Linked DNA regions of Homo sapiens. The protein of the gene in region 2 purifies or fractionates together with the protein of the main gene of each other region. This does not show direct contact. Each region holds a gene or a part of one and is shown on either strand. Other genes may lie near its edges.

What was found. The genes of interacting proteins can lie anywhere in the genome.
Region 1: the proteins of EIF6 (region 2) and BCCIP purify together in Homo sapiens (affinity purification with mass spectrometry; 5 studies listed by BioGRID and IntAct, with this or other methods). This does not show direct contact.

What each region holds. Positions count from the first base shown.
Region 1 is NC_000010.11:125,829,425-125,834,259, reverse strand, and holds part of BCCIP (BRCA2 and CDKN1A-interacting protein), read right to left. Parts: intron 3,699-4,835; coding exon 3,609-3,698; intron 2,841-3,608; coding exon 2,653-2,840; intron 489-2,652; coding exon 314-488; intron 1-313. UniProt on the Homo sapiens protein: During interphase, required for microtubule organizing and anchoring activities. During mitosis, required for the organization and stabilization of the spindle pole.
Region 2 is NC_000020.11:35,281,486-35,286,912, forward strand, and holds the start of EIF6 (eukaryotic translation initiation factor 6), read right to left. Parts: upstream 3,288-5,427; 5' UTR 3,241-3,287; intron 3,233-3,240; exon of another isoform or gene 3,008-3,232; 5' UTR 3,003-3,007; coding exon 2,896-3,002; coding exon of another isoform or gene 2,777-2,895; coding exon 2,691-2,776; intron 1-2,690. Other genes in the region: protein FAM83C, read right to left, coding at 5,050-5,427. UniProt on the Homo sapiens protein: Binds to the 60S ribosomal subunit and prevents its association with the 40S ribosomal subunit to form the 80S initiation complex in the cytoplasm. Behaves as a stimulatory translation initiation factor downstream insulin/growth factors.

The DNA.
Region 1 (4,835 bases), on a different chromosome or scaffold from region 2:
ATGGTTTTAGAATGAAAGATTTCACAGGAAGCATATTATAAATGCCTAATCATTCTTAACAGGTTAATCACTTTTCTCCTCCTCCTCCTCATGCTCATAACCACAGTGCAGGCAAGGAGGCTGGTGCCTAGCCTCCTGAGTACCTACTATGCACCTGGCACTATGTTAGCTGCTAGGTCCTGTGGGGAAACAGAAAAACAGAGTAGCCACACTTGAAAGACTTGGACCTAAAGTGGGAGAACAATAAATCTTGATAAATCATTTTCAAGAAAATCCTTATTTACATCTAAACAAATAAGCAGGATAGTCTTACCTCATAGAAAAATTCTTCCTCTGCATTTGCAAACATTAACGCAGCTTTCTTTTTGTTGCTAGGTTTCTTTTTGGAATTGTTTTTTCCTGCTTCCACAAATGTCTTACTAATCAGAAGGTAAAAGTAGCACTTCCCACATGGCTTATTGGTTCTGTGTGCCCCCGCCAGTTCTTTCCTGCAAGGCACACACACAACATTTGTTTACCTGCTGGGTCAAGTGAAATCCATCAACAAACCAGAGCACAGAAAACCCGGTGAGGCATCTTCAGTGGGTTCTGCTGTGACGCAGGCATTCAATCTGAACACTTAGTCTACAGGAATGATTTTTATTTACATAATCAGTTGCATTTTAGATTATGTATTACTTTTTATAATACTATGATATATCTCTCAGATTATGCTGATTTGTGGATATATAGCAACTAACAGATCAGATGAGTCTCAAATTCACTCAATGTATCACTGCTCTGCCTGTGCATAAGTTAAAAATATATACGAATCTGAATTTTTGAATTTTTTAAAGCAATGAACATTTAACTGAAACACACAAAGGTATACAGCCACAACCAATGTCACTACAGCCTGTGACTACTACCACAGTCTCTAATTGCTAGAGTCTGGAACTAATTTCTGACATACTGCAGAAACTGCATAAACACACAACCTAAATTCTAGCAATGGAATCGCAACAAAGCCTTAATGTTTCTTCTTTCTGAAAATTAAACATAGCCTTGTGCATCTGGATGCCCTTGAACAAAAGAAGAAACTCAGAACAACCGTCCTCTTCAGCTTTCCTTTTTTTTTTTTTTCTTTTTTTCGTTTGGAGACAAAATCTCACTCTGTTGCCCAGGCTGTAGAGTACAATGGCACAATCTCGGCTCACTGCAACCTCTGCCTGCCAGGTTCACACGATTTTCGTGCCTAAGCCTCCTGAGTAGCTGGGATTACAGGTCTGCACCACCATACCCGGCTAATTTTTTGTGGGTGTATTTTTAGTAGAATTGGGGTTTCGCCATGTTGGCCAGGCTGGTCTCAAACTCCTAGCCTCAAGTGATCTGCCAGCTTCGGCCTCCCAAAGTGTTGGAATTACAAGTGTCAGCCACCACACCTGGCCTTTTCAAAAAAAAAAAAAGAAAAAAAAAAAGATAGGGTCTTGTAATTTTGCCCAGGCTGGCGTGCAGTGGCTATTCACAGGCACAATCATAGTATATTGCAGCCTGGAACTCCTGGCCTCAAGCATTCCCCCTGCCTCAGCCTCCTGAGTAGCTGCGACTACAGGCGTGCACCACTGCGCTTGGCTCACTTCAGCTTTAACAGGACTAGGAGAAAGCAAATCACCCTCCTATAAAACCAAATAAATGTGAGCTCCAGCTGATCAGAAAAAAAGAAAACCAAAAAAAAACAAAAACCACTTAAGGCACCAGAAGCACAATCTGAGCTACAGCTGAGAGAGCAGGGAGCAGGAGATAAGAAGCATCGAATCCCTAGGAAAAAACAGCAAACGTAAAGGTTTCCAGAGTAGAGTTGCATTCCTACAGCTATTTAAAGGAAAACCACAACGCAAGGGCTATGACCTCTGAGAAAGAATATTCTATAAAGAACCTGTCTAGGTCAAGTGCTGTGACTGACACCTGTAATCCCAACACTGGGAGGCCGAGGCAGGAAGATCACTTTAGCCTAGGAGTTCAAGACCAGCCTGGGCAATGTAGCAAGACCCTGTCTCTACCAAAAAAAAAAAAAAATTTAAATTAGATAGAAATAAATAAGAGAATCTGCCTATATTTTGTCCTCTGTTGCAAAGCACAGACAATACAATTCTTAGTACACTCAGTTTGCTAGATTTCACAGCTACATTTGAAATATTTTTGTAAACTTAAAACTTCTGGATTAAAAAATAGAATAACAAAAACCCTGAAAAGCTAGCCACAGTATCAGGACTATGGTTTCATTTGTTATGAAACATACCAATAGAATTTGGGAACTTTACCAGTTTTGTTATTGTTGTAATTGTTCATTATTTTATTCATGTTGCAGAAAGCTATCTGTGAAGGTGAAAAACTTCAATCAAATGGGGATGCAAAGTCTATATGAAATTATCTACTTATATATCACTTAAATCTTAAGTTAAAATTTCATGATTATTGTCACAAACTCTTCAAAAAGCCAGTTGTTAATAATGTATGTACTTCACAGGATGTTTCTTCCACTCCCCTCACACTAAACCCACTTAAACCAAGGACAGAACTCTTTCTATATCTACATATTCTACTTAAATGACATTTAGGAATCTATTTGAAAAAAAAATTACTGTTCAAAGATATTTTCCCAGAATCTCTTACTGAAGCTGCTGGTACATGGGCAGAGCGATCTGTGGAGGGACATTAATGAATCTTTCACTTAGGAGAAGGCCCACAGGCTTGGTGGTGTCATTTAAAAACTTGTCCAGCTGTTCAACCATGCTCTTTTCACAGTTCTTCTCACAGAAGCGTAGAACCAACTCTTGAATTTGTTCAACACACTGGGTACCCTAGAAAGCAAAGAGAAAGCTTGTTTCCTATTACAAGCCATCACATAGAGGACAAAACCTGAGAGTAAAAGCTATCACTTTTCATCTTACAGCTAAGGGCAGTTTCCTGCCATAGCCTTAACGTCTTGTATGTCTTCAGTGTTGACTGCTTAAGCATTTCTCAAAAGTAAATACACTGGTTATTTACCATCCCATGATGAGTGGTAAGAGAGTCATAATTAACATTCAGACACACTGGAATGGCAACTCTAGTCCATCTCATAAAGATAGATGGAAGTAACTGGACAGTTTATTTCAAAATTAAAGACTAAGTGTAGCCTGCATCTTATTCTGAGGTGGGTAAGCAGCTGGTTTACTTTTTATTACAACTCATCAGAGAATCAATAAAAAGAGATGAATCGAAACAAAATAAAATGTCAGTAAATGCCCTCAACATTGAGGCAGCAAAGCCTGAGAATATCCCCACTACACAAGTAGCAAAGATAACAGCTGCAGAGAGACAGCACAAACAGCTCCTGCATCAGTACCAACATCAGGACTGCAAAGCCAGATGATTCCCTAAACCACAGGGAGTAAACAACTTTAACTGGGTACAGACCCAACACCACCACCTTCATATTGAAAAAGGATTACAATAAGATTTCACAAGAGCACTTATCCCTATAGTTAATATCACTGTTTAACATAAAAGACATTTTCACCATGCATTAAATAAAAGTGGTTTTGGCCTAAGAAATAACCATTCAGATGCCATCCAGTGAAACCAACCTTTCTTTCAGTTAAATTTAAAAGGCTTATGAAACCAAAAACCTCATCTTCATCCATATCATCATTGCTGTCTTCTGAAACATCCGTTTGCTATTTTAAAAGAAAAAATATTTAAATGTTATATTTAGTATAATACCAAGAGTATAAAACCAAGTCTTGGGATGTAGGCCTCATTTATCTTTTCACTTTTCAAAAGCAAAACTTTGTTTTACCACCGCCATCTTAGAAAGCATTGTATTTTAAATACTGTCACAGTTTTACCACCATCATCTTGGAAAGCATTGTATCTTAAATACTGTGTGACCTTGTTCATTTCGCTTTACCTCGACTCTGTTCCTCTTTTCAGATTCTGAACAGATTGAAATTTCTTTGTACCAGATTAAGTCATTTTCTTTTATCAGATTCTCAATATAATACAAATCCAGAAGAGATAAACCTCATGAAATAAAGCATTTTCATTTGTTTTCTACACAATTAGGCTGGAGCCAAGCCTTGCTTCTCTGCTGGCCCACAGCATTGTTTCATCTAAAACTCATGAGTTTCCAGAACACTTGTCAGTCTTGACCATTAGTGAAGCTAGGCAATGCTTGAGGGCCACTTACACCTATCACATTAGCAAGAGAGAAGGGGAAAAAAGAGAACCCCCTGCCCTTTGTTCTATGATCCTAGGGACTGGCTCCACCGAACACTATGGGTAGTCCCTTTACTAAGAACAAGAAGTCTCTATCCTCAGGACACCTCAAGTGTCTCTGGAGAATCCCAAGAAGCCACAGTTACAACTGCAGAGCTATTGATGTGATTATCCATTTAAAGAGTGAATCCTGCCATTAGATAATAACCTCTTTCAAGGATAAAAATAACTGCTTCTCCTCCATATCCATTAGGTCTTCTAAGACACGAATCAGCTAGAGATCACATTTATTTGATGAAAGGGCAGGTGGTCTGCTTTTTCCCATTGCCCTAATAAAAGGAATGCCCCATAGGTTTAATTTCTCATTTTCTTTACATTGAGTGCCATAAAGTTACTAATATTGTCAGAAGCCTTGAAAAGTGTACACTGTATTTAGTAACAAGTATGTTGGTGACCCTATCACTCAGTGTCCGAATTTTAGTGGTGTAAAAGTCAGATAAGAGTGTCTGAAGAATGAATAGGAGGACAGGAAGTAGAAACCATGACTTAAGATTACTTTTCAAGAATTTTGGCTCTGAAGGTGATGTACTTAAGAG
Region 2 (5,427 bases):
CCCAGGCTGGAGCGCAGTGGTGCGATCTCAGCTCACTGCAACTTCTGCATCCTGGGTTCAGGTGATTCTCCTGCTTCGGCCTCCTGAGTAGCTGGAATTACAAGTGCGTGCCACCACACCTGGCTAACTTTTTGTGATTTTGTAGAGATGGGGTCTCACTATGTTGGCCAGGCTGGTCTCGAACTCCTAACCTCAGGTGATCCGCCCACCTCGACCTCCCAAAGTGCTACGATTACAGGTGTGAGCCACTGCCCCCAGCCAGAATGACTAAAATTTTTACAAGTCATCAATTCCAAGTGTTGGCAAAGATATATGGAGCAACTGAACTCTCATACTGAGACAGGAGTGTAAGTTGGTCAATCACTTTAGATAATTATCTGGCATCATCTGCAACTACTACTAAATAGTCACATAACCTGTGACTCTGCCATGCCACTCTTAGGTATCATATACCCAGTAGAAATATGTACATGTGTTCACTAAAAAAACATAGCAGCACTATTACTTTTTTTTTTTTTTTTGAGACGGAGTCTTGTTCTGTTGCCCAGGCTGGAGTGCAGTGGCACAATCTCGGCTCACTGCAAGTTCTACCTCCCCGGTTCACACCATTCTCCTGCCTCAACCTCCCAAGTAGCTGGGACTACAGGCACCCGCCACCACACCTGGCTAATTTTTTTGTATTTTTAGTAGACACGGGGTTTCACCGTGTTAACCAGGATGGTCTCGATCTCCCGACCTCGTGATCCGCCCGCCTCGGCCTCCCAGAGTGCTGGGATTACAGGCGTGAGCCACCATGCCCGGCCAGCAGCACTATTCCTAACAGACCAAAGTGAAAACTGCCCAAATGCACTGTCGATGGAATGGATGAATACGTTGTGATATACTTACACAAAACACACCATACAGCAACAAGAATGAACAATCTACAAATACACGCCAATCAATTTCTGAATTCCAGGTCACTCCCATCATAAAATACACAAGGACTAAGCTAAAATCTCCCTTGTTGTCAGAACTTGCTTCAAGTCCTAAGGGCATGGTTAGAGATCAGAGTATTTTAACTGAATAGGAAAATACTTTGAGGTCACTAGGCTTAAGTTTTTGTTGTTGTTGTTTTTTGTTTTTTGTTTTTTTTTGAGACACAGTTTCACTCTTATTGCCCAGGCTGAAATGCAATGGCACAATCTCAGCTCACCGCAGGGTGAGCTCCACCTCCAGGGTTCAAGCAATTCTCCCGCCTCAGCCTCCCAAGTAGCTGGGATTATAGGTATGCGCCACCACACCCGGCTAATTTCTGTATTTTTAGTAGAGACGGGGTTTCTCCATGTTGGTCAGGTTAGTCTCGAACTGCTGACCTCAGGTGATCCACCTGCCTCGACCTCCCAAGCAGGCTTAAGATTTTTAAAAATTAAAGTAAAAGTAAAAAAATAAAATAAACAGACTTCTAAAAGTGACCTCAATGAGCAGAACTAAGAAACAATGGGCAGCAGTAATGGAAGACAGATCCAGCTTAATGAAAGGACCGGCCGGGCGCAGTGGCTCACGCCTGTAATCCCAGCACTTTGGGAGGCCGAGGTGGGAGGATCACCTGAGGTCAGGAGTTCAAGACCAGCCTGGCCAACATGGTGAAACTCCATCTCTACTAAAAATACAAAAAAATTAGCCGGGTGTGGCGGGATGCGCCTGTAATCCCAGCTACTTGGGAGGCTGAGGCAGGAGAATCACTTGAAGAGAGTGTTGCAGTGAGCCAAGATCGTGCCATTGCACTCCAGCCTGGGCAACAAGAGCGAAAACTCCATCTCAAAAAAAAATAATAATAATAATAAAAAGGAAAGGACCAACGACCAGAATTAACAGTGCTGACAGGTAGGAAGGTAGGGTAGAGATGTGGTAAAGGGAATTTAAGATTCCAACGTAACTGAGCAGGAAGACCGCATATCTTAGCTAATCTTTACAGAGACAGAAATGGATGCTTAGAAAGAGAAAGCACCTTGCCCAGTCAGTGGCAGGGAGAGATGAGATACAAATCCTCGGCTGGGTATAGTGGCTCTCGCCTATAATCCCAACACTTTAAGAGACCAAGGTAAGAAGATCACTTGAGCCCAGGAGATCAAGGCCAGGCTGGGCAACACAGGGAGGCCGCGTCTCTACCAAAAATGTAAAAATTAGCCAGGTGTGGTGGCACGTGCCTGTGGCCCTAGCTACCTGGTAGGCTGAGGTGGGAGGATCACTTGAGCCTAAGAAGTTGAGGATGCAGACAGCTGTGATCTTGCCACTGCACTCCAGCCTGGGCGAAAGAGCAAAAATCTGGCCTCAAAAAAAAAAAAAAAAGAGAAAAATCCTTCTCCAACACTAGGAACTAGGTGTGGAACTTACTGAGTCACTTAGGTCAAGTCTCAACTTCCTCATCAGTCAAGTTAGGCCAGTAACTCCTACCTTCTAGTGTCTTTGTGACGAAGGAATGAGAACAGGAGTGAAAGCACTTTACATTATTTGTTATTACTATTATCCAGCAGCCTTTGCTAGAGGGTTGCCCCGATCTCCTGACGCTTGGCCTGAGAGATTCTATAGTGCCCAGAGATAACAGATGATACCCTGGGAATCCCTAGGTCACTCCGGGTTCCCTCCGGGGGTGTAATTAATGGTGCTTGGAGACCACTCCCTCCCTCGGCGTCCTCCACCTGCCTTACCCACACACATGCGCCCGATGATGCGGCAGCCGGCGATAGACGCGTGCACCACGGGGATGGTATCGGAGAGCTCGCCCTCGAACACACTGTAGGGACATGGACTCGGTGGTGGCGGGGCAGAGGGGCCGGCACCCTCCCACTGCCGGAGCTCTTGACTCCTGCGCACGCCTCCCCGCCACCGTAAGCCCCGGGGCTCCCGCCGCACCTGTAGAAGTTCTCTGAGCCTCCGATCGCTACCAGACAGTAGGTGTTGGTGAGCTTGGCAAAGCAGCCGATCTCACAGTTGTTCTCGAACGAAGCTCGGACCGCCATGAGGCCTAGGGGCGGCGGAGGCGGGAGTTCAAGGCCGGCGGATCCTTTCCCAAGTATCCCGGCCTCCGTCCCTCAGGCCCCGCCGCGACCCCGCCCCTCTCGGCCTCCCGGCCCCTCCGTCCTCGGGTCCCGCCCACTGGGCCCCCACCAGAACCTCCGGCCCTGAATCCTCTGGCCCCCACCCCTCCCGACCCAGGACCGGAGCTGACCCTCCCAGGTTCCCCTCACACCAGCTTACCAAGTAACCAGTAACAAGCTCCGCACGCGGCGACTGTACCTTGGACTCCCTAAAAAGGTTTCCGTTTCCACTTCCGTCCAGGGAGACTTCCGGGAGAGCCCGGCGCTCCCCGCCACGCATCCAGCCCCTCTACCTCCGGCCTCCGGCGGACTCTATGGTCGCGAGCGGTCTGGGCGCGACCCCGCCTGGCCCCACGCCTAGCCTGCTCGCGTTCATTCATTCATTATTCATTCAGGAGCTTTTTAGGAGCTGTCATCGACCTAGACCTCCGGCTGGTCGGTTGTGAGGCATGAGGGAGAGGAGGGGCCAGGAGTGTCTCGCGGAAGGGTTGATGATGGAGGTATTGATGGAAATGAAGCCGGAGGAAGGGCAGGTTTGGGGAAAGGGATGAGTCCAGCTGTGCCTTGAGGGACAGAAGTCCATGTCTGGAGCCCAGCAGGGGAGTGGAGTGCTGACGAATGAGATGAGGGGCTGAAGACGGGTGGACTAGAAGAGGCTACCCATGGAGAGAGTTCCAGGAGGCAGAAGTGCGGCCAGACCGAGGCTGGAGAAAGAGCGCAGCCAGAGACGGAAAGGCAGCCAGGCTGCAGGTGCTGGAGAGAGGGGAGGACTGAGGAAGCAGGGGCTCAGGAAAAGGCTGGAAAGGGGTCCAGGGTGGGCAAGGATGTGGGTGCTGGTTGGCTTCCACGATGTGCCTCTCGCACGGCCTCTATCACTCACTCAGCAGCCAACTTCTGTCCCCAGGATAGTGATGGGGGCCAAGGGCCCTGCTGCACACTTGGACAGGATGAACTTGGCCCACATTTTGTAGAATCTGCAAAAGCCCCGGGTTCTCTCAAAATGTCACAGTGGTAACTTGGAGCCCCTGGACTCCCCCAATTCCTCCTTCGGCATTCACCCTCCTCCAGGGGTTTCCCCATAATTGGCCTGAATGGTGCCCTTCCCATTCCCCCAACGTGTCCCTCCCATAACTCCTCAAAGTTCAGGATACACCAGGCGCTGTGATTCACAATAAAGTCTGCCTTTATTGATGTGTATCATGTTTACTATCCCGGGTAAGTGGTGAGTTCAGGAAAATGGCCCACAACCTGTCACAGCCTGTACTTCAAGAGACACTCAGCAAGATGATGACGACGACAATGATGATGATGATGATGATGACTCAGCAAGATGATGACGACGACAATGATGATGATGATAATGATGATGTGTGTGTGTGTGTGTTTCCGGGTATCCACATACTCTGCTCTTCCTCACTCATTCACCTCAGACCCACTCAGTCCTCTTTAGGGCATCTCTTTCACCTGATTCTCTCTACCAAAAATTTTTCTAACTCTCTCCTCCCTCTGTCCAAAACCTCCCCATCCTTCAGGGCCTGGCTCAAAGGCCACCTCCATCTCCTCTAAGAAAGTTTTCTGACTACTCCACCTTCTCCAGGACTCTCTGCCCTTTGTTTTCTAACACCCTCTGTAACTGGTTAACCTTTAACTTGATATGGCTCTGACCCCTTCTCCAGCAGCTTGTGCATTTCACCTCTGTCCCCAGGTCTGAGTGTGACCCACCTGTCAGCTCTACAGGCCCAGCACAGGGCTGGAAACACAGCCTAGATTCAAGAAGATACTAGTTAGGGTGTGTGTGTGTGTGTGTGTGTGTGTGTGTGTACACAAGAATCTTGAGCCCAGAGAGTGTGTCTGACCTGGGTTTCTAGACACCTCCCTTCCCCAGTCTGGGACCTGAGCAAGTCCAGAGTCTCGGTGGACAGAGGAGGGGCCTGCCCTTGCCAGTGCACCCCCGATGCCAGTCCTTTGGCTAGGACTCAAAGCGGCTTCGGAGCTGCTTGAACTTGGACTTGTTGTACTTAGTGATGAGGTCCAGTTTGCTGTGACCCAGGGTCAGCCGTTTCTCATCCCTGACCAGGTCACTGTTACCACCATTGAGATGGCCACCCTTGGGACCCCCAGGCTCAGTTCCCTGCCTGGCCCCGTGCAACTGATGATACTTGGTGATGAGGTCCAGCTTGCTGTGGCCCAGGGTTAGCCGTTTCTCATCCCCAGACCCAGCTCCAGCCGTGCGAGCAGGGCTTGATATCGGGAGACCATTGGGCCCAGGCCCCTCACCACGGAATGGGCCGAACTTTGTGATGAGGTCCAGCTGGCTGTGCCCCAGGGTCTGCCGCCGCTCATCTGG